4 linked regions of the Homo sapiens genome follow. The protein of the gene in region 1 purifies or fractionates together with the protein of each later gene. This does not show direct contact. Each region holds a gene or a part of one and is shown on either strand. Other genes may lie near its edges.

Region 1 (3,500 bases):
AGAGCCAGAGAATAAGAAGTTGTGGTATCATTTTGCCAATACTGTCCATTTTAGCACAAAAGGGATAACTTAGTGTCAACATTTATGCTCCTAAAGGATGTTGGGTCAAATGAAATGTTCCTCATTGTTTCTCTCTCTTGATCTCTCCTTCACTCCTTCTCTTCCTTGCAGGATCTCCAACTCCTTCATAAGGGCACTCTGTGTTACCCCTTTAAACAAAATAAAGAAGTCCTACATTCTGCCCAGATTTTTTTCAGGCTCCACCAAAGGGTTGGGTGAATTATGGCCCAAAAGTTGGTGAGGATGATGGTGAACCTTCAATCACCTTCAGTCTCCCAACCAACAATGGTCATGGCTTGTTTTCTCCCTGGATTACATGGAGAAAATCATGCCCTACTTTTTGGACCTGTTGCTTCTACATTTGTATGGTAACTGTGAAACCATCCTAATGAACAGCAAACATTAACCACTACATAAAATGTAGACTTTGAATAAAAACACAGCTAAGTACTAACCAACTTGCCCTTTAAGCCAATTCCCTGTAGCTACTTACAGCATGACTGTTAGCTCCTTTCCTTATAGTTTCTTACTGCCTAAAAGTCACATAGATGTGGTCACAAGGCACTAACTTCCCTTAGTTATTTCTATAAGATAATATATGTAACGTTAAGAAACATCAAGTTTCTATCTAAAAAGTTTTCCAGATCTTGGAATCCCATGGGTCTGCTGACACCAGTCAGTCTGAAGACCCCCTCCAAGGAATTGACTCAGCAAAAAAACAAAAAAAAAAAAAAACAACAACAAAAAAAAAACAAAACAAACAAAAAAAAACTTCCAGTTTTCATCTCTGTATGTTTCATTTCATTCCCTATACCCCAACAAATCAGCAGCTCCAGACCTTCAGCACCTTACCTGCCTTTCTCTTAAAAATCCTAAACTTAGACTCAGCAGGGAGGTAGATTTGAGGTTTCCTCAACCTTCCTCATTTTTCTGCCATTCAATTATTAAACTCTTTCTCTACTGCAATACCTGCTGTTTTGGTATATTGGTGTGTTACTGTGCAATAAGAACAACTCTGGTGAGCCTAAAATAACTTTTTCTGGTTGCCTCTCTAATTTTGTTCCCAATATCTACTTGTAGGCCTACCTCCTCAATTTCCATGGTTCTCCTATTCCTAGGTCTTTTTTAAAGACTTAATTTCTTCCACTGAATTGTGTCTCCTGAACATTCACTTGAGCACAACTTCACCTGCAGCCTTGCTTTAGGAAATATTCCATAACTGGACATAAGAAACTCTTGCTTTCTTAATATCTATGACTACCCAAAAGATGAGTATAATTCTGATTAAAACTAAATTAGACTGTCAGAATGTGGATAACTATTGAACCAAAGCATATTATTTTGAAGAAGACTAAGAATTTGGAGAAGAGAATTAGGAAGTCTTTAAGGAAAAAAAAAAGTGAAAGCTATCTTTTGGGAATTTTGTTTTCTTTCTTAATAGTACTAGCTTTCACAGCTAGTAAGAGGACTTCAGAATTATTTGGAGCATAAATATAAGAACTTTCTTACTGATTTGCCCCAGTAACCTAAATGGAAGGACACATGGCTAGGATGATTTGGAATTCAATTAATGAAAATCAAGCATGGGTTTGTTAGAAGAGGAATATTTATTTTTTCCCATAGAAATAAAATGTAAATTGTTAAAAAAAAGTTGGCTCATTTTAATTAATTCAATTACTTAGAGTCATTCATATTTTCATTCAGATATAAATGAAACACTCTTCCTTCTTTATTTTTATTTCCTCTCCCCAGCTTTTCATTCTCTTTCAGTCTTCCTTTCTGTTTTTCGTTTGTTTGTTTTGTTTTATTTGGTTTTTTTGAGCCAGGATCTCACTCTTTCTCCCTGGCTAGAGTACAGTGGCACAATCTCAGCTCACTGTAGCCTCCACCTCCAAGGCTCAATCAATCATCCTGAGTAACTGGGACTACAGGCACGTGCCATCATACCCAGCTAATTTTTGTGGGGTTTGTTTTGTTCTTTCTTATTTTTTTTTTTTTTTTTTGCAGTGGAGATGGGGTTTCATCATGTTGCCCAGGCTAGTTTTCCTTTCTATATACAGAAAAATTTAAAGTGAATGTGATGTTGGAGAGAGTGGGAAGGAAAAGTAATGGCAAGTATGCTTGCTCATTACCAGGCACTGTGCTAAGCTCTGTGAATACACAGATAAGTAAAATCCACGCTGTTTCTCAAAGAACTCACAATCTGTTTAAGAAGCAGATGTCTATACAATAATTTTATAACTATTATTCAATGTGATTAGTACTCACATAGCTCTATATAGAGTGTTATAGAAGAATAAATTAGAGAATATCTCATTTTTCCTCCAGTGGTTTAAAAAGATGTCACAGAAACTGAATTGTAAATGGTACGGAAATATGGAGGGGTGGTTTGCAGTAGGACCTATCTTAGCCCACCGCTTCTCAGGTTTTGGCCTTTGAACTTGAGATATGACTGTTCCAAGGACAGAAGGCAAAACGAACAAAAGCAAAATCTGAAGCAGGCTGTCAATAGAGATTGACTCTCATTGCGGCACACCAGTACAGGCTGGGCCAAATGTCAGAATCAAGGCAACTTATCTCAAATGCAGGGCTGTAACGCTCTCTCAATTGCACCTGAAAATGAAACAAACAAGAGTGGAAATGAAACATATATCCTAATGTAGCTTTCAGGACTAGGGCATGCAGGTGGGCCCCAGTCATCTAATAACTGATGTATAACTTAGGATTTTTCAAAAGGCACCAGTGATCTATGACAGGGGGAGAAAAGGGCCAGATTACCAGTTTCCTCAAGAGGCAAATCTTCTAAAAAATCATCTGCAGCCCGCAGCATCTGCCTCAGTGCAGAGAGGATGAGAATATCCTTCATGGGGTCCAGTTCCAAATCTGAAGCATAATTTCCAACCATCAAAATATTGGAAATAGGAATGCCTAGCATTTTATGGACATTCATGACCTGTGGAAAGTATATTTAAAAAGTGTAAGTCCTGTATTTAATATTTGAAATTTGACCAATTTTAAATACAATTTAAGAAAGAAACCAAAAAAGCAATGGCTTAATAAGTTATCTTCGGAACATACAATAATTCAGATCATTGCAGTTTTAAAGTGTGATATAAATTTGAATTAATCAAGCAATTGATCCCATTCTTCATTTCCCTGCAAATACACTCTGTAAGCACATATACACGTACAGACACACACAAACACACACACGTATGATTGTGATACTATTACAATAATATCTGGTTATGATCAGCATTTTTTACCCGGCTTTGAGAAGTCATAGATCTACTCATGTTTAAAAAGTTGTCTTGAAGAACCTCACTGCAATCATCCACTTTAGTAAGCAAGGCCACATATGCTATACCTATATCAAATAGATAAATCAGTTATTTTATATCATAAATAGCAATGTGTCAACAAGTTATTAAATATGTGTG
Region 2 (3,500 bases), on another chromosome or scaffold:
AGAGGAAAAAAAAAAAAAAGGAGAGAGAAAGCCCGGGTCCTCCCCCTCCCCTCGGCCCCTCGCTCCTCCCCGGATCCGATCCTGGGGAATCTCGACCCGCCCCCGGGCACTGGGGGCGGGAGTGAGGGGGTTCGGGGCGCCGGCCAAACCTGGGCCCCACGGCTGCCTCCCCCGCCGCCGCCCCCTGCCCTTGCCTCTGGCCGGCCTCGGCCTCGCTACTTAGGGCCGGCTCCTTTCCCTTTTTCTCCACTCCCCTTCTTTCCCCTTTTCTCTACTCCCCCGCCAATAACGGCTTCGGAAAAGGCCTCCCCCGCAGGGACCGGGTCTCCCGGAGCCCCGGGATTCAGCTCGGCCACCGGACCCTCGCCACAAGCTGCGCCTGTTTCCGGGACTCGCTTTCCCCTCCGCTCTCCCTATTTCTTGCTGTCTTTGTAGCTGTCTCTCTGTGGTTCTCCTGGCTCCTTCGCTTTCTTTTCCTCTGTCTGTCCTCTCTTTTTCCTGGCTCTGTCCATCTTCCGTCCCTACCCCCTCTCTCTTTCTCTCCCTCCATTCTGCCTTTCTGTGTTTGTCTTTTTCTCTCCTTTCTCTGCCCTTTCTGTCCCCCTCCCCCGCACTACTACCCCACCTAGGCGGCACTCAGGGCAGGTCCCTTGGGCCCATGGGGGCGCCGGGGTCCCCACGGAGCTCATTAACAGCAGCCAGGCCCAGGCGGGGGCTCGGTGGAGGGATGGGCCCAAAGATACCCCGTAGGGAGGCTGCCCCACCCCCAGTGGAGCTGGGGACTGGGGGAAAGAAAAGGGTTGCTCACCTCAGCGGGTTCCAAGCAGTTCTGGTGGATCAGGTTCAGAGGCATCCTCTGATCCCCTTTAAATTGCCGGACCCGCGCTCTTCACTCTGGGCGTGCTCTCTGTGGGAATGCAGCCCCGGGGGTGAGGGGACCTGAGTGCCGGTGGAAAGAGGCCCCTAGGAGGTGTAGCCCCTAGCTAACAGCTCCAAAGGCAGGGGCAAGACTTGTATCTTGCAAATTCTCTCTGCAAGGGGCTCTTCCCCATCTGGGCAGGGGAAGGGGGAGGTCACCAGCAGAGTAAAAGTCCTTTGGAGGTAGTGTGGCCAGGCAAAATGCAGCATCCCCAGTTAAATTGGAATTTTGGGTACGTAACAAATACATTTTTAGTGTAAGTGTCCCCGGCAATATTTGCATTTTGGAAAAATAACGAATAAATTTGAAATTTGTAGTATAAGTGTCCCGTGTAATATTTGAATTTTAGATAAATGACAATTTTTTAGCATAGCTGTGTCACCTGTAGTATTTGAATTTCAGGTAAACAACAAATACATTTTTAGTATAGGTATGTCCCATGCAATATTTAGGACATGCTTATACTAAAAAATTACTTATTATTTTTCTGAAATTTATATTTAACTGGGCAACCTGTATTTTCATTTGCTAAATCTAGAGCTCTGTTACGGGTATGTGATGAGGGCACAAGATACCTTCTCAGTTCTCACTTTAGGCGGACCGAATGTACACCCCTTATGAGGCTTACCCCAAGGCAAGACCTTAAGTGTGGCATGGCTCGGGAGGTGCCATGAGGAGGCGACCTTGGGAGGGGTCCTGCAGGTCCCCATCAGCTTCCAGGTGGCTGAGCAATTTTCTGAGGCCCAGGTTTTCACCCATATTCCCCACCCCCAATGCCAGCCAGGCATTGGCAGCGTGGCCCCCATGAGGCTCCTTGTGGTTAGGGACAGGCTCCCTCCTCCCTTCGTGGTGTAGTGGAAGAAAACAAGGAGTACTCCAGTGCTAAATCTAGGCTCAACAGATCAAGATCAATCTAGCTGGTTACCGGTGGTGTGGCAGTGTGCAAGTGGCTTCATTTCCCTTAGCGTTAGTTTCCACATCTCTAAAATGGGAATAGTCATAGCCACCTCTCTGAGAGGTAATGATGTACAGTGACATTTGTAAAGCCAAACACACACCATAGGTGTCTACTACATGTTTATTTCTGCCTCGGACTTCCTTCCCCGTCCACTCTGCCGCTCTCTGTGGACTGCCGCAGATCTCTGAACTTCCCCGAGCCTAATTTGCTCCACTTGTTCACGGAGAAACAATCATCTTACAGGGTAGCGATGAGGATTAAACTGCAAAATGCAGTTTCCAACCTTTGGCCCAGTGCCCAAGGCCCAGGGGTCCCTCAGTACTTTTGGGTGTGGCAAAATGAACATGAATCTCTGTTTCAGCAGTTTCTAGGTGCCGGTCCCAGACACGGTAGGGGGAGACGGCAGAAAGCACTCCTCCTTAGAGTGCCTTGGAAAACAGGAGGAGGGCAGGCCCAGAGACCCTGTCCTGCTGTGTCCAAAGTCAAGTGACTTCCCTTGCTGAGCCTCAGTTTCAACATCTGTAAAAACGGGAAAAATAATACCTGGTGCTCCTAGGATTGTTTTAAGTACCTAAAGAAAATGTGCCTGGAAAGCCCTTTAACACATCACCTGGAGTTCAATCGGCCATCAACAAGTCGTAGCTGTTGTTGCTGCTGCTGCTGCTGCTGCTACTATTGTTCTTATTGTAACATAATGGCTCAGAATGATTTTTGGATTCTCCCAGAGCCGGGATTCAGTGCTGCAGTTCTTAGCAGTGTGATCCTGGGTGGATCGCTGTCTCTGAGCCTCAGTGTTTCCATCTATAAAATGGGGATGATGTCCCCCTTTCATTGTGGCGCAGACATGCAGCAGGGTTAAGGATTGAAATGTTTGGCAGTGGGTGGGGCGAGTGTGGATTTGGCATGGGGGGCGGGTCAGGAAGTTCACCCACCGGCTCTGTGTCTCCTCCCTAGCGCTAAGCTGCAACGAAAACGACGCAGAGCACCTGGACCGTGACCAGCCATACCCGAGCAGCCAGAAGACCAAGCGCATGCGCACGTCCTTCAAGCACCACCAGCTTCGGACCATGAAGTCTTACTTTGCCATTAACCACAACCCCGACGCCAAGGACTTGAAGCAGCTCGCGCAAAAGACGGGCCTCACCAAGCGGGTCCTCCAGGTCAGCCAGGGCCAGGGGTGAGGGCATCTGCGACCACCAGGGACTGGGGTGGAACCCTGCACCCCTCGCCGTGGGCCTTGGAAGGACCTTCCACCCTGTGTCTGCTTCTCTGTGTGTTTAATCTTTCTCATTCTCTTTCTTCACCTCTCCAGCCTGTCCCCATCTGTATTTCAGTCTTTTTTTTCTTACTTTGTCTTTTCTCTTTTTCAGTTTTTGCCTCTCTGTTTTTCTGTTTGCGTATCGCTCCATCCTCATTGTCTCCACACTCGGTCTCTTTTCTTTCTTCTAAACAATTCTTAGTTTCTGTTTATTATTCAAGTGACACTCATTTTACACACATTCACATCATAAAAGGTTCAAACATTTCAGATAAATCTAGAGGCCGCCCCACCCCATCCCAGGACGTACACCCAAGGTGACTATCATTAGCTCCTGCTTCTTGCTTCTTACCCACTCTAGTTTC
Region 3 (3,500 bases), on another chromosome or scaffold:
TAACTACAGAGTATTATCAAAACCAGGAAGTTGATGAACTACACAATACTATTAACTAGACTTACTGAAGTTTCACCAGTTTTATATTCACTTATTTTTTTCTGTGTCTTTATGAATGATTCTATGACATTTAATTACAAGTGTAGATTCCTGTAACTGCCCCCATAGTCAAGGTACAGAATTTCTTCATCACTCACAAAAGAACTCCTTCATACTCTCCCTTATGGTCACACCACCCTCTGTCCCTGACATCATTTTTCTGCACTCCACCTCTATAATTTTGTCATTTTGAGAATTTACAAAAGTGGAATCATGCAGTAAGGAACCTTTTGAGACTGGCTCTTTTTCACTCAGTTTAATGCCTTTAAGATCCATCCAGGTTGTTGTTTGTTTCTTTTTGTTGTTTTTCCACTTACCCCTTTTATTTATTCCATTGCCTATGTAAGACATAATACAGTTTATTTAACCGTTCTTTTTTTTTTTTTTTTTTTTTTTTTTTTTTTTTTTTTTTTTTTGAGACAGAGTCTCGCCCTGTCGCCTAGGCTGGAGTGCAATGGCACGATCTCGGCTCACTGCAACCTCCGCCTCCCAGGTTCAAGAGATTCTCCTGCCTCAGCCTCCTGAGTAGCTGGGATTACAGGCACACGCTGCCACACCCAGCTAATTTTTGTATTTTTAGTAGAGACGGGGCTTCACCGTGTTGGCCATGATGGTCTCCATCTCGACCTCCTGATCCTCCCACCTCGGCCTCCCAAAGTGCTGGGATTATAGGTGTGAGCCACCGCGCCTGGCATATTTAACCATTCTTGAACGACATTTGAGTTGTTTCAGTTTGGAGCTGTTATTACCCTTATTTTAAAATTTTCCTTAAAATATCAAAGTGTATTCCTTTTCTTACATGGTAAATACTCAAATGCTTTATTTATGTGTGCTAAAGCTACAGACTCTGGCACAACTAGTTTCTTCTCCCATTCTTTTTGGGACACAGAGGAAGGAAGAATTGCCCACAATGTCACCAAAACAGATCAGCTTCTTAAAATATTTTTCCACATTCCCTTCTGGTTCATCATAAATTCTGTTGTCTAGTTAGGAACAAATTATACATATACCTGATCATAATTTATTTTCTGCACATAAACTTATCAGACAAATAACAAGCAGGCTGATTTTATTTAAATCTACCAAGACATTTCTTTTTTTTTTTTTTTTTTTTTTGAGACAGTCTCGCTGCATCGCCCATGCTGGAGTGCAGTGGTGCGATCTTGGCTCACCGCAACCTCCGCCTCCCAGGTTCAAGCGATTCTCCTGCCTCAGCCTCCCAAGTAGCTGGGATTACAGACATGTGCCACCAAGCCCGGCTAACTTTGTATTTTTAGTAGAGACAGGGTTTCTCCATGTTGGTCAGGCTGGTCTCGAACTGTCAACCTCAGGTGATCTGCCCGCCTTGGCCTCCCAAAGTGCTGGGATTACAGGCGTAAGCCACCATGCCCAGCCCAAGACATAACTTTCTAACCTTTTTTGTGGCTACTGTACTACATGTGATTGCAAGGCATTGCAGGACCCTAAAGTGCTTTCTGGAGTTATAGCTAGAGATTGTTACATATGTTATAATTTTAGAGTGTATATATGTGTGTACACACACACACATACACATATATAAAACCTCTTTCCTTCAGTTTCCTGATATATAAAATGAGGACAGTCATATCTTGGTAATTTGAGTCCTATCCAACTCTAAAATTTCATATTTAGGGTTATTTGAAAATTAATTTCTATATGGTATATAATAAAAATTTTACCTAAATATAAAGTGCCTAAATACCTGATTACTCAGAAGCACTGAGAAGACATCTCCAAGTAAACATTAACAGTGAAACAAAAGATCACATTTACATATTCAAGAAATAGTAAATTGATAAATAATAGTAACGATTAATGTTTTATGTTTGATACACCTACTGTACTAATAAGTTAACCACAAACTATGGGATGCTTCATACCCTTAAACATTCTACTCCATAAGGTTTCAAGTCCACAGTTGTTACCACTGTTAAGCTGTTGTAGGAAATTGCCAAGCAATAAATTTACATTTTTTACAAGTCAATATAACTCTTGTGTTCTCTTGAAATTTCAGAAGCTTTTTATCTTTATTTAAGGGCATTTGTCAAAACAGGTCCCAATTGGAAATAAAAACCATTTGTCTCAGTAATGTATTTGTTTTCAATTTAACTAGATTGCTCTTAAACTTGGTGTGACTGCTAATGATGTAAAGAATGTCATTATCTGGGGAAACCATTCCTCGACTCAGTATCCAGATGTCAACCATGCCAAGGTGAAATTGCAAGGAAAGGAAGTTGGTGTTTATGAAGCTCTGAAAGATGACAGCTGGCTCAAGGGAGAATTTGTCACGGTAAGAAAAATCTGTGAGCCTTCTTAACACTGAGCGTAAAGAACTCTTGAGAGACTCTTAGGACAGAAAACCTTAAAGAGGGCAGGTCTTTCACAGTTGCTCTGATGACTGCATACTTTCGGGATCATAGTAAGCCAGTCATGATCTAGTGTGATCTGATGTGACAGCAGTTGAGATTTATACCAAGATCCATGTCTTTGTCTGACCTATGATAAACTTTGTATGGAGATACATAGTTTCCTTTTTCCAGAAGGATTGGTAAGGCTGACATTGGGTTGTTGCATGATTTTGGAGGGGAAACATTAAGCTCTGGTCATAGCTTTTCACCCCAAGGTCGACTTGGAATTAATGAAAACTTTGCTATCATGACCAAGTAATACTGCTGCCTTCACCTGCCCCCTTCCCAGACTGTGCAGCAGCGTGGCGCTGCTGTCATCAAGGCTCGAAAACTATCCAGTGCCATGTCTGCTGCAAAAGCCATCTGTGACCACGTCAGGGACATCTGGTTTGGAACCCCAGAGGTAAGGATTTAGTGATTTGCACAGGTCACTCTATTTTATTTTTGTTGCCTGATGATATAATATAAAAAGAATATAGCCTTAGCAGTCAGTCAGGTTAGGTTCATTTCTCAGCTCAGCTGCCTATTAACAAGTAAACTTCGGGGTTTGTTAGCCTTGACCTTTCTGAGCTGTTTTGTCATCTTTTACATGACATTACTATTATACACAGGGTTGTGAGGGTTAAAGGAGATTGCACATGGAAAACACCTGGCACAATGCCTGATACATAGTAGGGGTGAATTTTTTTCTTCTATGCCACAGCTTCCTCATCTGTAAAATGAGGATTAGGTTTCCCTGGCCTACTTCACATATGATATGGAAGCGTGGAATGAAATAATATCCATGAAAGTTACCTTGTCACCAGTACCTGGTGCTGATGATAGTTCCTTACACAGTAATGATGTTATGAACATAGTAAGAAAGGGTCACCTGGTTTAATTTTATTAGTTCATGTGTCAGTTGTGTAAACTAATCATCATGAGTATGTGAAACATTGTTATTTTCAGGGAGAGTTTGTGTCCATGGGTGTT
Region 4 (3,500 bases), on another chromosome or scaffold:
CTTAAAGGAAATGGACAAGAGAGTGGCAAGAAAGGAGGACCTAAGGAGATGGCAAATTTAAGGCCGGAAGGACGGCTCTATCAGCATGGGAAACTTACACTGCTGCATAATGGAGAACCTCTCTACATTCCAGTAACCCAGGTAGGATGCACTAGTTCTTTCCATTTTAATTTATTTTGTGGTTTATATAACTTCATCCTAGTAGAAGATAGTGCTTTGAGTAAGGAAAATTATCCAAAAAGTCTATGTTTAGGCCAGATGCGGTGGCTTACGCCTGTAATCCCAGCACTTTGGGAGGCTGAGGTGGGCAGATCACCTGAGGTCAGGAGTTCAAGATAAGTCTGGCCAACATGGTGAAACCCTGTCTCTACTAAAAGTACAAAAATTAGCTGGGCACAGTGGCGCACACCTGTAGTTCCAGCTACTGGGGAGGCTGAGGCAGGAGAATCATTTGAACCCAGCAGTGGGAGGTTGCAGTGAGCCGAGATTGCACCACTGCACTCCAGCCTGGGCAACAGAGCAAGACTCTTGTCTCAAAAGAAAAAAAAAGTGTTTATGTTTAAAGATAAAGATATAGACTGTTTAAAGAAACTAAAGGTAAGGATTTCCCAATGACATAGATAAATGTGGTCTTGATTTAATCAAGGACCTTTAAAAGATTGGACAAAGTCTATGTTTAAAGATTAAAGAAATCTAAATAAACTTTTGGGGCTTTTAGGTTTGCCATTTCTGTAATTGAGAAATGTTTTGAAGTTTAAGTAGATCACGTCATCATATATAAGGTGATTTATAAACTGAGCAGTGAATGCTCAGATGTTTAAAAAAGAAAATCCAACTGCACTTATGTATGTTTTTGTTTAACTTGTGGACAAAGACTTATGGATAGGTGCAAAAAATAAATCCTCTTTTGCAACCCAGAACTCATTGTTCAGTATGAGTTTTGATACATATAAGAAGGGATATTATGATACCTGAGACAGTTAACTGATGGGAATATTGATAGCCATAAAGGTTGGTCCCAGACCAGGCACAATGGCTCAAGCCTGCAAGCCCCACACCAAGGTGGGAGTATTGCTTGAAGCCAGGAGTTCAAGACCAGCCTGTATAAGAAAGTAACAAACACCTCATCTCCACAAAAATTTAAAAATTAGCTGAGTATTGGGGCATGTGTCTGTAGTTGCAGCTACTCAGGAAGAGGAGGCTGAGGCAAGAGTATTGAGCCCAGGAGTTGGAGGCTGCACTGAGCTTTGATGACACCACTGTACTCCAGCCTGGGTAACAAAGACAGACCCTGTCTCTTAATTAAAAAAGATTGATTCTAGGACTGTGGAAGAGATAGTTAAACAGCATGGGATATGAAGGAAATCCTCAGCAGTATTAATTTTGCATTCCAATTTCATGTTGACTTGATACCTACGATGGCTTTTTGTTTTAAAGGCTTTTATCTTGAGAACATGATGTCTGTAGTTAAAGGTATTGGCGTATTCCACACATCTGTACTATTCTTGAGTATGATCGCTTAGGGTGTCAAATTGAGAACCAGGCAGATCCACCACCTACAGTAAAAAGGACCCTAAAGTAAATTGGTTGAAGAAGTTAGATCCCAAAGATTCTTGGTGAATTTTGAAGTCTTCATCAGTATATCCATATTAAAAGGAGATGACAGAAGCCAAAATAAAAGAATTATGGGCTAACAGGACAGCTGGATTAAAATAAGCATCAGTTTCATTAAAAAGGGCTAACTTGAAGATAAATCTTTTGACTCCAGCTCTTTAGAGGATCTGAAGTGACCTTGATGGACAGTGGAAGAAATCACAACATGGAATTACTTGAACAAAAATTTATTGACTTAAAGAAAAAGAAAAAATCCAAAAATATATAGAGAGAACAAAAGTAAATATCCTTCAATTATATGATTAGCTTTTATCTGTTCAAAAATAGTTTGAAGTCATATACACCATTAGGATGTAGAACAGCAATAACTCAACAACAACAGCAGCAATAGTTGTTTTTAAGGGTTTTGTTTTGTTTTTTTTTTGTTGTTTTTTTTTTGACACAGAGTCTCTCTTTGTCACCCAGGTGGGAGTGCAGTGGCATGACTGTAGCTTACTGCAGCCTTGACCTCCTGGGATCAAGTGATCCTCCCACCGCAGCTTCTCAAGTAGCTGGAACTACAGGTGCATGCCACCATGCCTGGCTAATTTTTCGTGGTTTTTATAGAGGTGGGGTTTTGCCCTGTTGTCCAGGCTTGTCTTAAATTCCTGAACTCAAGCCATCTGCCTGCCTCAGCCTCCCAAAGTGCTAGGATTACAGACATGATCCACTGCACCCGGCCTGAAAACATTCTATTGTGAAAATTGTAATCTAGTAAAAATGAAAGAGGCTCAACGCCTGTAATCCCAACACTTTGGGAGGCCGAGGTGGGGTTGGATTGCTTGAGCCCAGGAATTCAAGACCAGCCTGGGCAACATGGTAAACCCTATTTCTACCAAAAAAAAAAAAAAAAAAATTAGCCGACTGGGGTAGCGTACACCTGTAGTCCCAGCTACTCGGGAGGCTGAGGTAGAAGAATCAATTGAGCCCGGGAGGTTAAGGCTGCAGTGAGCTATGATTGTGTCACTGTTCTCCAGCCTGGGCAACAGAGCAAGACCCTGTCTCAAAAAAATAAAAAGTGAAAGCCACCATCCACTAATTTTGACTTGCATTCCTTGAAGTAACTAACAAGTATTATTGGTTTGGGTTATATTTCTTATAACTGTTTCTCTGCATTGATGTATAATACATATATGTGTGTACATATTAATACATGGTTTTATGGATTTTTTTTTTTTTTTGGAGACAGGATCTCATTCTGTTGCATAGGCTGGAATGCAGTGGCATGATCATGGCTCACTGCAGCCTTGACTTGCTGGGCTCAAGTGATCCTCTGACCTTAGCCTCCTAGGTAGCTGGGACTACAAGTGCTCACCACCATGCCAGGCTGATTTTTTCACTTTTAAAATTTTTGTAAAGATGGAGTCTTGCTATGTTGCCCAAGCTGGTCCTAAACTCCTGACCTCAAGCAATCCTCTGTTTCGGCCTCCCAAAGTGCTGGGATTATAGGCATGAGCCACTGTGCCCAGCCTCAATTTCTTATAAACAATTGGTATTACCAACCATATAAATTTTTGTTAACATGATGGTCAAAAGTAGTATCTCAGTGTTTTAGATTGTATTTTTCTGAATTTTCATGAACCTGAGCATCTTTTAATATGTTCGTTAGCCGTCCTTTCCTGTGAATCGCCTATGATTTTTCTTTTAGGTTGCTCCCCTGTTCTTATTGATTCATATGAATTCTTCATATTTTAGATGTGAATCTACAGTTATATATATTGTATATGTTTTCTGCTAGTCATTTTAAAAACATATGTTCATGTATTTACTTAATTATTGAGTTATAACTTAATACAATAAAGTGTACAGATCTTGGCTGGGCATGGTAGCTCATGCCTGTAATCCCA

What was found.
Region 2: the proteins of IFI44L (region 1) and LHX2 purify together in Homo sapiens (affinity purification with mass spectrometry, with the first as the bait; one large-scale study listed by BioGRID). This does not show direct contact.
Region 3: the proteins of IFI44L (region 1) and MDH1 purify together in Homo sapiens (affinity purification with mass spectrometry, with the first as the bait; one large-scale study listed by BioGRID). This does not show direct contact.
Region 4: the proteins of IFI44L (region 1) and RAB3GAP1 purify together in Homo sapiens (affinity purification with mass spectrometry, with the first as the bait; one large-scale study listed by BioGRID). This does not show direct contact.

Annotation. Positions count from the first base shown.
Region 1 is NC_000001.11:78,640,948-78,644,447, reverse strand, and holds part of IFI44L (interferon-induced protein 44-like), read right to left. Parts: intron 3,428-3,500; coding exon 3,327-3,427; intron 3,014-3,326; coding exon 2,839-3,013; intron 2,674-2,838; coding exon 2,639-2,673; 3' UTR 1-2,638.
Region 2 is NC_000009.12:124,018,268-124,021,767, forward strand, and holds part of LHX2 (LIM/homeobox protein Lhx2), read left to right. Parts: intron 1-2,831; coding exon 2,832-3,037; intron 3,038-3,500. UniProt on the Homo sapiens protein: Acts as a transcriptional activator. Stimulates the promoter of the alpha-glycoprotein gene. Transcriptional regulatory protein involved in the control of cell differentiation in developing lymphoid and neural cell types.
Region 3 is NC_000002.12:63,602,463-63,605,962, forward strand, and holds part of MDH1 (malate dehydrogenase, cytoplasmic), read left to right. Parts: intron 1-2,233; coding exon 2,234-2,410; intron 2,411-2,817; coding exon 2,818-2,931; intron 2,932-3,476; coding exon 3,477-3,500. UniProt on the Homo sapiens protein: Catalyzes the reduction of aromatic alpha-keto acids in the presence of NADH. Plays essential roles in the malate-aspartate shuttle and the tricarboxylic acid cycle, important in mitochondrial NADH supply for oxidative phosphorylation.
Region 4 is NC_000002.12:135,135,792-135,139,291, forward strand, and holds part of RAB3GAP1 (rab3 GTPase-activating protein catalytic subunit), read left to right. Parts: coding exon 1-141; intron 142-836; exon of another isoform or gene 837-964; intron 965-3,500. UniProt on the Homo sapiens protein: Catalytic subunit of the Rab3 GTPase-activating (Rab3GAP) complex composed of RAB3GAP1 and RAB3GAP2, which has GTPase-activating protein (GAP) activity towards various Rab3 subfamily members (RAB3A, RAB3B, RAB3C and RAB3D), RAB5A and RAB43, and guanine nucleotide exchange factor (GEF) activity towards RAB18.